3 linked regions of the Homo sapiens genome follow. The protein of the gene in region 3 purifies or fractionates together with the protein of the main gene of each other region. This does not show direct contact. Each region holds a gene or a part of one and is shown on either strand. Other genes may lie near its edges. The genes, in order: HS6ST1, UBR1 and ITM2B.

The links.
Region 1: the proteins of ITM2B (region 3) and HS6ST1 purify together in Homo sapiens (affinity purification with mass spectrometry; 2 studies listed by BioGRID and IntAct, with this or other methods). This does not show direct contact.
Region 2: the proteins of ITM2B (region 3) and UBR1 purify together in Homo sapiens (affinity purification with mass spectrometry; 3 studies listed by BioGRID and IntAct, with this or other methods). This does not show direct contact.

What each region holds. Positions count from the first base shown.
Region 1 is NC_000002.12:128,312,312-128,315,963, forward strand, and holds part of HS6ST1 (heparan-sulfate 6-O-sulfotransferase 1), read right to left. Parts: intron 1-3,652. UniProt on the Homo sapiens protein: 6-O-sulfation enzyme which catalyzes the transfer of sulfate from 3'-phosphoadenosine 5'-phosphosulfate (PAPS) to position 6 of the N-sulfoglucosamine residue (GlcNS) of heparan sulfate.
Region 2 is NC_000015.10:42,945,627-42,949,099, reverse strand, and holds part of UBR1 (E3 ubiquitin-protein ligase UBR1), read left to right. Parts: intron 1-3,473. UniProt on the Homo sapiens protein: E3 ubiquitin-protein ligase which is a component of the N-end rule pathway. Recognizes and binds proteins bearing specific N-terminal residues that are destabilizing according to the N-end rule, leading to their ubiquitination and subsequent degradation.
Region 3 is NC_000013.11:48,253,574-48,257,225, reverse strand, and holds part of ITM2B (integral membrane protein 2B), read right to left. Parts: intron 3,419-3,652; coding exon 3,290-3,418; intron 1,050-3,289; coding exon 843-1,049; intron 1-842. UniProt on the Homo sapiens protein: Plays a regulatory role in the processing of the amyloid-beta A4 precursor protein (APP) and acts as an inhibitor of the amyloid-beta peptide aggregation and fibrils deposition. Plays a role in the induction of neurite outgrowth.

The sequences.
Region 1 (3,652 bases), on a different chromosome or scaffold from region 3:
TCTCTGGGGCCTGACTTCCTTGTGTGGAAAATGGGGCTGCTCTTCATATACTTGTCTTGGGGGAGTGTTGGGTCCAAACAAGATGACCCATTCCAAGTGCCTGCTAAGTGTGCAGGGGACAAGAGTCACCCTGCCAGCCTCTCTACATGCCCCCATGGCTTGTCACGCCTGTTCCTCATAGAGGCGGAATTCAGTCCCGCAAAATGCCACATGGGATGGTGATGGGCACCCAGAGAGGGTGCACCCCAGGCCCCTGGGAGCTGCACCCCTCTCTCAGCAGGGGTGAAACTCAGCCACCTGTGAGCAGGTGGCGACATGTGGGTGACTGGGCATGGCTGCTCCCAAGTGCCCTACATAGATGGGCCACCCCAAGGGTGTACTCATTGGGCAAGGCTTTGCAATAAAAACCATAAGATTAGCACTTTTCGGTGATTTAAGAGAATAAATTTAAAAAAAAATTCACAATAGGCTGGTGCGGTGGCTCACACCTGTCATCCCAGCACTTTGGCAGGCGAAGTCGGGCAGATCACCTGAGGTCCCGAGTTCGAGACTAGCCTGGCCAACATGGTGAAACCCCGTCTTTACTAAAAATATAAAAAAAATTAGCCAAGTGTAGTGACGGGCACCTGTAATCCCAGCTACGTGGGAGGCTGAGGTCGGACAATCGCTTGAAACTGGTAGGCAGAGGTTGCAGTGAGCTGAGATCGTGCCATCATTGTCCAGACTGCACCGGACAGAGTGAGACTCCATCTCAAAAAAAAAATTCACATGCTATTCAGTACCAATGAGTGTGCCACTGACATGGGTGCTCACAGACCACAGGTGGGAGCATACCAGGAGTGGGTGTTCTGAAGAGGAAGGTAACATTTGTACCAAGAGCAGTAAAGACATTCAGACTATTCAACTCAGAAATTCCACTCCTAGGAATCTCCAGAGGAAATCAGAGCTATGCAGAACATTTACACACAAGGAGCAGTCCTGCAGCAGTCCCCACAGAGTACAGAATGAGCAACCTGCGCACTCACCCACTGCCAACCAGCGGTGGCACACTCAGAGCGGAGCAGCTGCAGCCACTCAAATATTAAGTTTTTAATGACAACAGACAACATTTATGGTGAAATTTATATGATGGCTTCAATTACAGTGGAAAAACCATGCATGGGGAATGGATGATTTTCCTTTTCTCCCTCTGCCTCATACTTTCCTCCCACTCATCTACCAAACAATCATTATAACCACAACAAAGCGGGGTGTGAGAGCAAAAGCCTCCAACTCCCCGAAGGACGACAAGACCAGGCCCCTTCTCCTCCTCCCTCCTGGGCCCTGGAGGATGCCAGACCCAAGGTGGCCACTCCCCCGTGTGGCAGCCAGAACTCCTGCTGAGAAAGAAACCTGGATTCCCTGGCCCTAGGGACCAAGGTGGGCACTGCACTCTCTGGGACTGGGCTCTCTGATCCAGGAGCAGGAGTCCCCAGGCCCCAGTTTTATGCGTGAAGTGCCTAGGACAGGAAGCTGTGGCTTGAAGACCACCAGAGCAGCATGGCAGAAATGATCCCCCAAGCTAGAGGACCATCTAAAACGATCCTGTCACCCAACCATTCGTAAGTTTGCCTTATCATGTGTTTGCTTAAAAAAAAAAAAAAAGGATTTTTTATCTATTTTTAGTGAAAATCTAGGAGCATCTTGACCACAGATTCCCTTCTCATCTTAACCAAAGGCCTCTCTAGGCAATGTAGGCACAGTGACACCCCCAGCCTGGTCCCCAGGTCCTGTTCATTGGCCCCAGTCACATGCTCTGGGTAACATCTGTCCCCATCACAGCAGATGAGGGTTTCTCCCTTGATCTCAAAGAAGAAAGCGATTATGAAGGTAAGGTGGAAACTGTCGCATGCCACAGAAACGAAGGCTCTCATCCAAGCCCACCCCTACCTGGTCTGCCCCACCAAGGAGTCCCCAGGTTCTCAGGGAACACCATGACACTCAAGACTGACTCCGTGAACCTGAGTCACAGGGAAAGGGCAGGGACAGAGCCCAGATCCTGCAGAGTCCAGGAAAAAAAAATTCCCATGGTGCCAGCATGAGGGCAGTGCCAAGGTGGCACGGTGTCAGATGGGACAGCAGTCGAGGCGCCTAAGGCAACAGGGGAGCCTAGGAACAGAAAGCCAGGGAAGATTTCCTGGAGGAAGGGGCATCTGAGCAGACTGAAGGGAGGGGAGGAGCAGGCAGAAAAGTGGGAGAGGAGAGCAGGCACACCAGGTGGACGGCACACAGGTCCAGCACCAGGCGGATTTCTGGAGTCTGAGAAGGCTTCAGGATCACGGAGGGCAGGTCAAAGGCGAGGCTGCGGGCTCCTGCGCCATCCCTCCAGCAAGGAAGCACTGGTCTCTGCAGGGCAACGTCACAGAGGCTGCGAGCCCACTAAGGGCTCCAGAGAGGCCCTGGTGCAGAGAGGATGTGAGCTGGTCCCGGGTTCCCGGCCAAGGTGGCCCAGATGCCACACTTGGGCTCCAGATGCCCTCCGTGGCCCCAAATGAAGCCCACATGATTTCAGGGACATTTCCAGGGTGGCCCGGGCAAGACCTTGACCATGCCTGTTCTTGCGTTGCCTTCAGGCAGACGGGAAGAGGAAGGAGGGAGGTTCTGGCTCTGGAGCACCATCTGGACCCTCTGAGTGACAGCGGAGTGTGGGGTGCTGAGACATTCTAACCGAGTGGTCCCTGGAATGGCTGGCCATTTGGCTGCTGCCTGGGGATGGCCACACCTCTTTAAGGCCAGCCAGCAAACGTCCTTCCAGTGGAGTCTTACAAGCACCCTGGCTGATGTCGGCAGATGAGGCAGCCCCCATGGTGAACACAGGACTAAACAGGGACCCGCCAATGCTCTGCTCACTCTTGTTCCTTTCTACCAAGGCAGCCAAGCACTAACAGCCACTAGAAGTTCCAAACCATATTCCAGGAAGACATCAAAAACCTGTCCATCTCCATGGATGCCCAGCTCAGAGCAGCCCAGGCTGATACTGTGCAATGGGGAGGCTGGCAGCCGGGAAGAGCCCCACCTCTCTTACGCGCACCACAGGCCCACTGAGACCCTCCCAAACCGCAGCAGGGAATGGGAGGGGCTTGGTGGAGAGGTTCCAGGAGCCAGCCTTGGGCAGGGAGGCAGGCAGAGATAGAAGGAAAAGAGGGTCTCAGTCCCCAGAGAACACGGAGATGGCAGTGCAGAGCCAGAGTGAAGACATCGCAGGAGGGCCAGGGTGACACCTGAGTCTCCTGACACCAAGCCCACTTAACATGAGGCACCCCAGCAGGGATGGGCACTGCCCCTGATAGAGAGTTGCTGGGTCCCTGGGCAGATGGGGGAAGTGCATCCCAACCGCCACAGCAGAGCAGCTTAGCCCAGCTCCAGCCTGGGCCAGAAGACTCAGGTGGCGGGGCAGCGCTCAGCAGGTGGACCTCAGTGCAGCTTGGCCCTGCGAGCACAAAGGCAAGATTACCTTGGCCTCCTGATGAAGCTCATTAAAAAAGCAATCTACCTAGTGCCTGCAACAGAACTGAAGGGAGTGGAGGCGGAGAAGAGGGACTCGGAGGGTGGGGTGCTGTCACCTGCCCGGTAGCACAACCCACTTCCAGAGTGGGTGGCAGAGGGGGCCTCC
Region 2 (3,473 bases), on a different chromosome or scaffold from region 3:
TGGCTGCATAGTATTCCATGGTGTATATGTGCCACATTTTCTTAATCCAGTCTATCGTTGTTGGACATTTGGGTTGGTTCCAAGTCTTTGCTATTGTGAATAGTCCCGCAATAAACATACGTGTGCATGTGTCTTTATAGCAGCATGATTTATAGTCCTTTGGTTATATACCCAGTAATGGGATGGCTGGGTCAAATGGTATTTCTAGTTCTAGATCCTTGAGGAATCGCCACACTGACTTCCACAATGGTTGAACTAGTTTACAGTCCCACCAACAGTGTAAAAGTGTTCCTATTTCTCCACATCCTCTCCAGCACCTGTTTCCTGACTTTTTAATGATTGCCATTCTAACTAGTGTGAGGTGGTATCTCATTGTGGTTTTGATTTGCATTTCTCTGATGGCCAGTGATGGTGAGTATTTTTTCATGTGTTTTTTGGCTGCATAAATGTCTTCTTTTGAGAAGTGTCTGTTCATGTCCTTTGCCCACTTTTTGATGGGGTTGTTTGTTTGTTTCTTGTAAATTTGTTTGAGTTCATTGTGGATTCTGGATATTAGCTCTTTGTCAGATGAGTAGGTTGCGAAAATTTTCTCCCATTTTGTAGGTTGCCTGTTCACTCTGATGGTAGTTTCTTTTGATGTGCAGAAGCTCTTTAGTTTAATTAGATCCTATTTGTCAATTTTGGCTTTTGTTGCCATTACTTTTGGGGTTTTAGACATGAAGTCCTTGCCCATGCCTATGTCCTGAATGGTAATGCCTAGGTTTTCTTCTAGGGTTTTTATGGTTTTAGGTCTAACGTTTAAGTCTTTAATCCATCTTGAATTAATTTTTGTATAAGGTGTAAGGAAGGGGTCCAGTTTCAGCTTTCTACATATGGCTAGCCAGTTTTCCCAGCACCATTTATTAAATAGGGAATCCTTTCCCCATTGCTTGTTTTTCTCAGGTTTGTCAAAGATCAGATGTAGATATGCAGCATTATTTCTGAGGGCTCTGTTCTGTTCCATTGATCTATATCTCTGTTTTGGTACCAGTACCATGCTGTTTTGGTTACTGTAGCCTTGTAGTATGGTTTGAAGTCAGGTAGCGTGATGCCTCCAGCTTTGTTCTTTTGGCTTAGGATTGACTTGGCAATGCAGGCTCTTTTTTGGTTCCATATGAACTTTAAAGTAGTTTTTTCCAATTCTGTGAAGAAAGTCATTGGTAGCTTGATGGGGATGGCATTGAATCTATAAATTACCTTGGGCAGTATGGCCATTTTCACGATACTGATTCTTCCTACCCATGAGCGTGGAATGTTCTTCCATTTGTTTGTATCCTCTTTTATTTCATTGAGCAGTGGTTTGTAGTTCTCCTTGAAGAGGTCCTAAACGTCCCTTGTAAGTTGGATTCCTAAGTATTTTATTCTCTTTGAAGCAATTGTGAATGGAAGTTCACTCATGATTTGGCTCTCTGTTTGTCTGTTATTGGTGTATAAGAATGCTGGTGATTTTTGTACATTGATTTTGTATCCTGAGACTTTGCTGAAGTTGCTTATCAGCTTAAGGAGATTTTGGGCTGAGACAATGGGGTTTTCTAGATATACAATCATGTCATCTGCAAACAGGGACAATTTGACTTCCTCTTTTCCTAATTGAATACCCTTTATTTCCTTCTCCTGCCTAATTGCCCTGGCCAGAACTTCCAACACTATGTTGAATAGGAGTGGTGAGAGAGGGCATCCCTGTCTTGTAGCACATAATTTTCAACAACTTCTCCAAAATTTGAAGGTAGTGTTTCCCCAAAATTTTTAAAGACACCAGCCATCTTAATGTTTCAGTGTTCTATTGTTTGTAATCAACCTTTCTTCAGAACTACTTAAAAGGATTGACACTGATAGTATAAGTTTGTAGTGTCCAGTGATGAAGTTTGTTTTAGAGATATTGTTTCCATTGCAATACTTGAAACTTTTTTTTTCTTTGTTTTTTGAGACAGTCTCTCACTCTGTCACCCAGGCTGGATCTCGGCTCACTGCAACGTCTACCTCCAGGGTTCAAGCGATTCTCCTGCCTCAGCCTCCCAAGTAGCTGGGACTACAGACATGCACCACCACACCCGGCTAATTTTTTTTGTATTTTTAGTAGTGACGGGGTTTTACTGTGTTGGCCAGACTGGTCTCGAACTCCTGACCTCAGTTGATCTGCCCACCTTGGACTCCCAAAGTGCTGGGATTACAGGCATGAGCCACTGCACCCAACTGAGACTTTTTATTAGCCAGCTATATCAGCCTTCTTTCCTTCTGAGCATTAACAAAATATTTAGAATCCTGAACTTTTCTGTATCCTTCCCTGGTGGTAGGAACTGGGGTCCTACTGATGACTTATGAAAATGAGGAGACTGACAGTGATCTCAAAAGTACATATAGATAAAGATTAGACCTCCTTACAATAAACTCTTTTTGGTTCACTGAAATTTTGTTCCTTTGAAATATTGCTCAGAAAGAATACACTTATTAGATGGGGCTTGGGACCTTGGATCACACAGAGCTTTCTTTTTATTGGGATGACATTTGACCTGTCTTTAGGTTTAGGGAGAAAAGCAGAGTGGTGAAAGTAGTTAATGACTGAGAATCTTAGTTGTTCCACAAGGGTACAAAGCAGAGTTTTAACATTAATTTGGCAGTTTAAAAATCCCCAACCAGGCGGCCGCGGTGGTTCACGCCTGTAATCCCAGCACTTTGGGAGGCCGAGGCGGGCGGATCACGAGGTCAGGAGTTCGAGACTAGCCTGGCCAACATTGTGAAACCCCGTCTCTACTAAAAATACAAAAACAATTAGCCAGGTATCGTGGCGGGCACCTGTAATCCCAGCTACTCTGGAGGCTGAGGCAGGAGAATTGCTTGAAACTGGAAGGCAGAGGTTGCCCTGAGCCGTGATCGTACCACGGCACTCCAGCCTGGGCAAAAAGAGCGAAACTCCATCTCCAAAAAACAAAAACAAAAACAAAAAAAATCCCCAACCAGCTGAGAGACTTGAATGTCTCAAGGAATTAGGATCTCACAGTTCTCCGTTACTGGCAACAGCCAGACTTAAGTCATTTTGGATTAGCTGTTATACAGTGTTAAAAACTGTGCAACTCTAGAATTGAAGTATAATTATTTTATTAAATTATTTGCTAATAACCAGCCAGTTTTTTGTATCGTAAGGACAGTTACAACCAAATATCTCTGAGTAGCAAAATATAATTTTAGGGCCTAGTGTTATACGTCAGGCCTAACCTCTACTGTGCAAAGATCATAAATTGAAGCTAGATAACAATATGAAGCCAAAAAGCTATTCAAGCTAACCACCAAAAAAGAATAGTGCTGCTTCAAGTTATAAACCTCAGTGACCATTTAAGTGAGGTCCCATAATGCCATAATATACCTGACCTATTTTATGAATGGTCAAGGAGTACATTTCTGCTTTATTAGCTAAGTAGCCTGTCAAGTTCTTAGTG
Region 3 (3,652 bases):
ATACCTAGGTGAGTACAGCATAATAAAATATTTTGAGAAACCACCTTCACATAACTTTTATTATAGTATTTTGTTATAACTGTTTTATTATTATTGTCGTTAATCTATTACTGTGGCTAATTTGTAAATTAAATTTTAACATATGTATATATGTACACTAACAGGAAAAAACATAGTATATACAGGGTTTGGTACTATATGCAGTTTCAGACATCCACTGGGGGTCTTGGCATGTATCCCCCACGGATAAGGGGGGACTACTGTCCTATAAGATCATGTTAATTTTCTTAGATGTGATAATTATGTGGTTACGTAGGAGGACAACTCATTCTTGAGAGATAATAGCATAAGTACTTATGTCAAATGACAGAAAAAGAGATGAAGCAAATATGGCAATATTTGGAACAAAGTGGAGGATTTTGGGTATTCAACTTTTCTGCATTACATAAAAATGCTCAAAAGCTGGGGAAAAATATAGAATGAGAACTTAAAAACAGATTAACAAAATTATTGATTTTGAAAATGCTACCAAGAAACAGGAACATAAATTACCTCTTATCTAAGAAAATGTGGGAACATATAAAAAATATTAGTTTGCCAGCAAAGGAGGAACAGTCATGAGGTGGGCTTTAAGAGTAGGTAAGGCAAGGGGAAGGAGAGATAAGATATGAGAAGGCTGCATCAGCAGGGTCTGCTTCAGACATAGCAGAGCCCACCAAATGCTGACAGTTTATTAAACTAAACTCTAAATATAATAAATTAGCAAATATTGAAATTAAAACTACAAAAAGCATAAACTACAGAACCTGCATTCTTTCTACAATTCTGGACACTTGGCTCACCTTGTTAAAGTCATGAACAATGTTGGCAGGATCACTATCTGCAAACTCTGGGACAGGCACACTGATAAATTCAACTTCTTCTTCTTCAAAGATTTTAATATTTTCTTCAATTGTCTGGTAGAGAGCAGCTGGGGCATCTGCAGAGGGCTCATTTAAGATGACATCATCTTTGATGTACTTTATTCCACAGTAGTACACGTCATCTGGCTATAGAGAGTTTAAAGACTCATTTCAGCAATTCAGCATGAGACAGGTTTTTAAATAAGCATTACTTAAGCTGCCACCTCTATCTAAATAGCATTTTGCTTGCAAACTCTTGCTTTTAGATGACAAGTCAGACAGTTTAATTACAGAGTTAACATATTCTTTAAGATCAGGTTTTGAAGCACTGTAAAAGAACAGCTTCAGAAGAAAGGCAGCTGGTTTTCCCTTTACTTTTCCTGGTAGGTGAAAATAGAACATAAAAATAATTAGCTATCCAGTAACAAATAAATATAAAGAAACAACAGACCTACTCTACCTGTAAGCAGTTTTTATAGAAGAATACATTCCAAAACTAGTCAAGTTTTTCTGAAAGAATATATTAAAAAGTTTTGATATGGTCTACTAATTAAATGACTTTTTTCTTATTAGCCAAAAAAGGGATAATTTTTCTGAAATTTCTATATGCATATACGTAGTTCTACTTTTCCCTTTATATCACAATTCAGTGGAAAATATTAGATTACAGCAAATCTTTATGCTACTGTCTCACTTTTACAAAAAGAAAAAACAGTACATAAGGTCGGGTGCAGTAACTCATGCCTGTAATCCTAATACTTTGTGGGGAGGAGGCCTGAGACAGATGGACTGCTTGAGCCCAGGAGTTCAAGACCAGCCTGGGCAACATGGTGAGACCCTGTCTCCACAAAAAATAAAAAAATTAGCTGGGTATGGTGCCACGCACCTGTAGTCCTAGCTACTCCTGGGGAGGTTGAGGCGGGAGGATTGCCTGAGCCCAAGAGGTTGAGGCTACAGTGAGCTGTGATTGCACCACCGCACTCCAGCCTGGATGACAGAGTGAGACCCCATCTCAAAAAAAGCCAAACACACAGTACATGTACACGTGCGCGCACGCACACGCGCGCGCACACACACACACACACACACACACTACACACACTACACACACAATAAAGACTAAGGGTATACAAAATGTGAATGCACAGGGCCAGGCATGGTGTGTCACGCCTGTAATCCTAGCACTTTGGGAGGCCAAGGTGGGTGGATCGCCTGAGGTCAGGAGTTTGAGACCAGCCTGGCCAACATGATGAAACCCTGTCTCTACTAAAAGTACAAAAATTAGCCAGGAGTGGTGGCAGGTGCCTGTAATCTCAGCTACTTGGGAGGCTGAGGCAGGAGAATTGCCTGAACCCGGGAGACAGAGGGTGCAGTGAGCCGAGATCGCGCCATTGGACTCCAGTCTGGGCAACAAGAGAGAAACTCTGTCTCAAGAAAAAAAAAAAAGTTAATGCACCAAATGTTATCTCTGGAAAATGGAATTGCGATGATTTTTTCTATACTATATGTATTTCTTGTAAATAAAACTGTATTTAAAAAGATGACTAGTATTTTGGTAATGTCTATCAACATGTGATTGATTATCTTGAACAACACAGAAAATGAGCATGAAATTGAGAATGTTTCAAAATTAGTTAAATTATTTTAATAAGTCTAGTTGTCAACTGTTTCTCCAAATTTTGAAACAGCTGAAGTAGTCATAAAACCTTGAAAGTAATTTCCCCTTCAAAACTCCTAAAAAAAAAAATTGTGTATTATTGCCAAGAGAAATATATTACAAAATAGATTGTAAATTATAATCAATCACAAGGAAGACCTTTGTCTTAACCCACTGGGATTACTATTAAACACTCAAAGTTATAAACAACTTTCATCCTATGTTATTTCAATATCACTGCTGAAGTCACCCAGTTCTTTAGTGAAACCATGACTGGAAAAGAAGCAGAGACATGGTCTTACTGTATTCTGGGCCCAAGGGTACAGCAGGACCATAGGGGAGTCCAAGCTGACTATCAAGTTATGGCCTATCAACATGAAAACATTTGTGGCTGATGTATTTATTCAACTGGCAATTGATAATACTATTCCTCTCAACCCTTAATTATAGTAGGAAAATAAAGGTTAGTAAAATCACCCAATGACCTAAATAAATCCCTTAGTCACCAACATTTCAAGTTACTCTGCTTTTAGTGACTGTGTGTGATGGGCTCAGCAAACATATCATGGAGAGATGTTTAAACACAGCTTTAAAATAGAACTACCACTCTGGCTGAAGGTCACAGATAAAAAGTACAAGCTTAGCGCAAGTTGTAAACAATTTTGTAATGCACATCGGGAGAGGCAAAAAAAAAAAAAAATCAGAGACACAAAATAATTTTTCCACTTACTTGAAGTGCAAAATATTTGTACAAGTATGCTCCTCCTAGAATAACACCTGCAAGCATAAATGCTAGTCCAAAGCACATGCACCAACACCAGGCTCTTCTTTGGCCAACTGGTACCACATCATCTGGGTCCTAAAATATGAAAAAGACAGTTAAATATCTTATCTCCAGACAGAATAACAGAAGGCTCAGGACTAGAAAAACCTTAATGATTATCATTTTAATAAATGAAGACACAAAGACCAAAGGAGTTGTGTCTCTCATCAAAATCAACCCAGGAATGATTAAGTGGTAGCTCCAGGGCTCATCTTAATGGTTCTTGGACTGGGACATTGGTCTCTAGGAGAGTTGTCTACTTCTAATCTC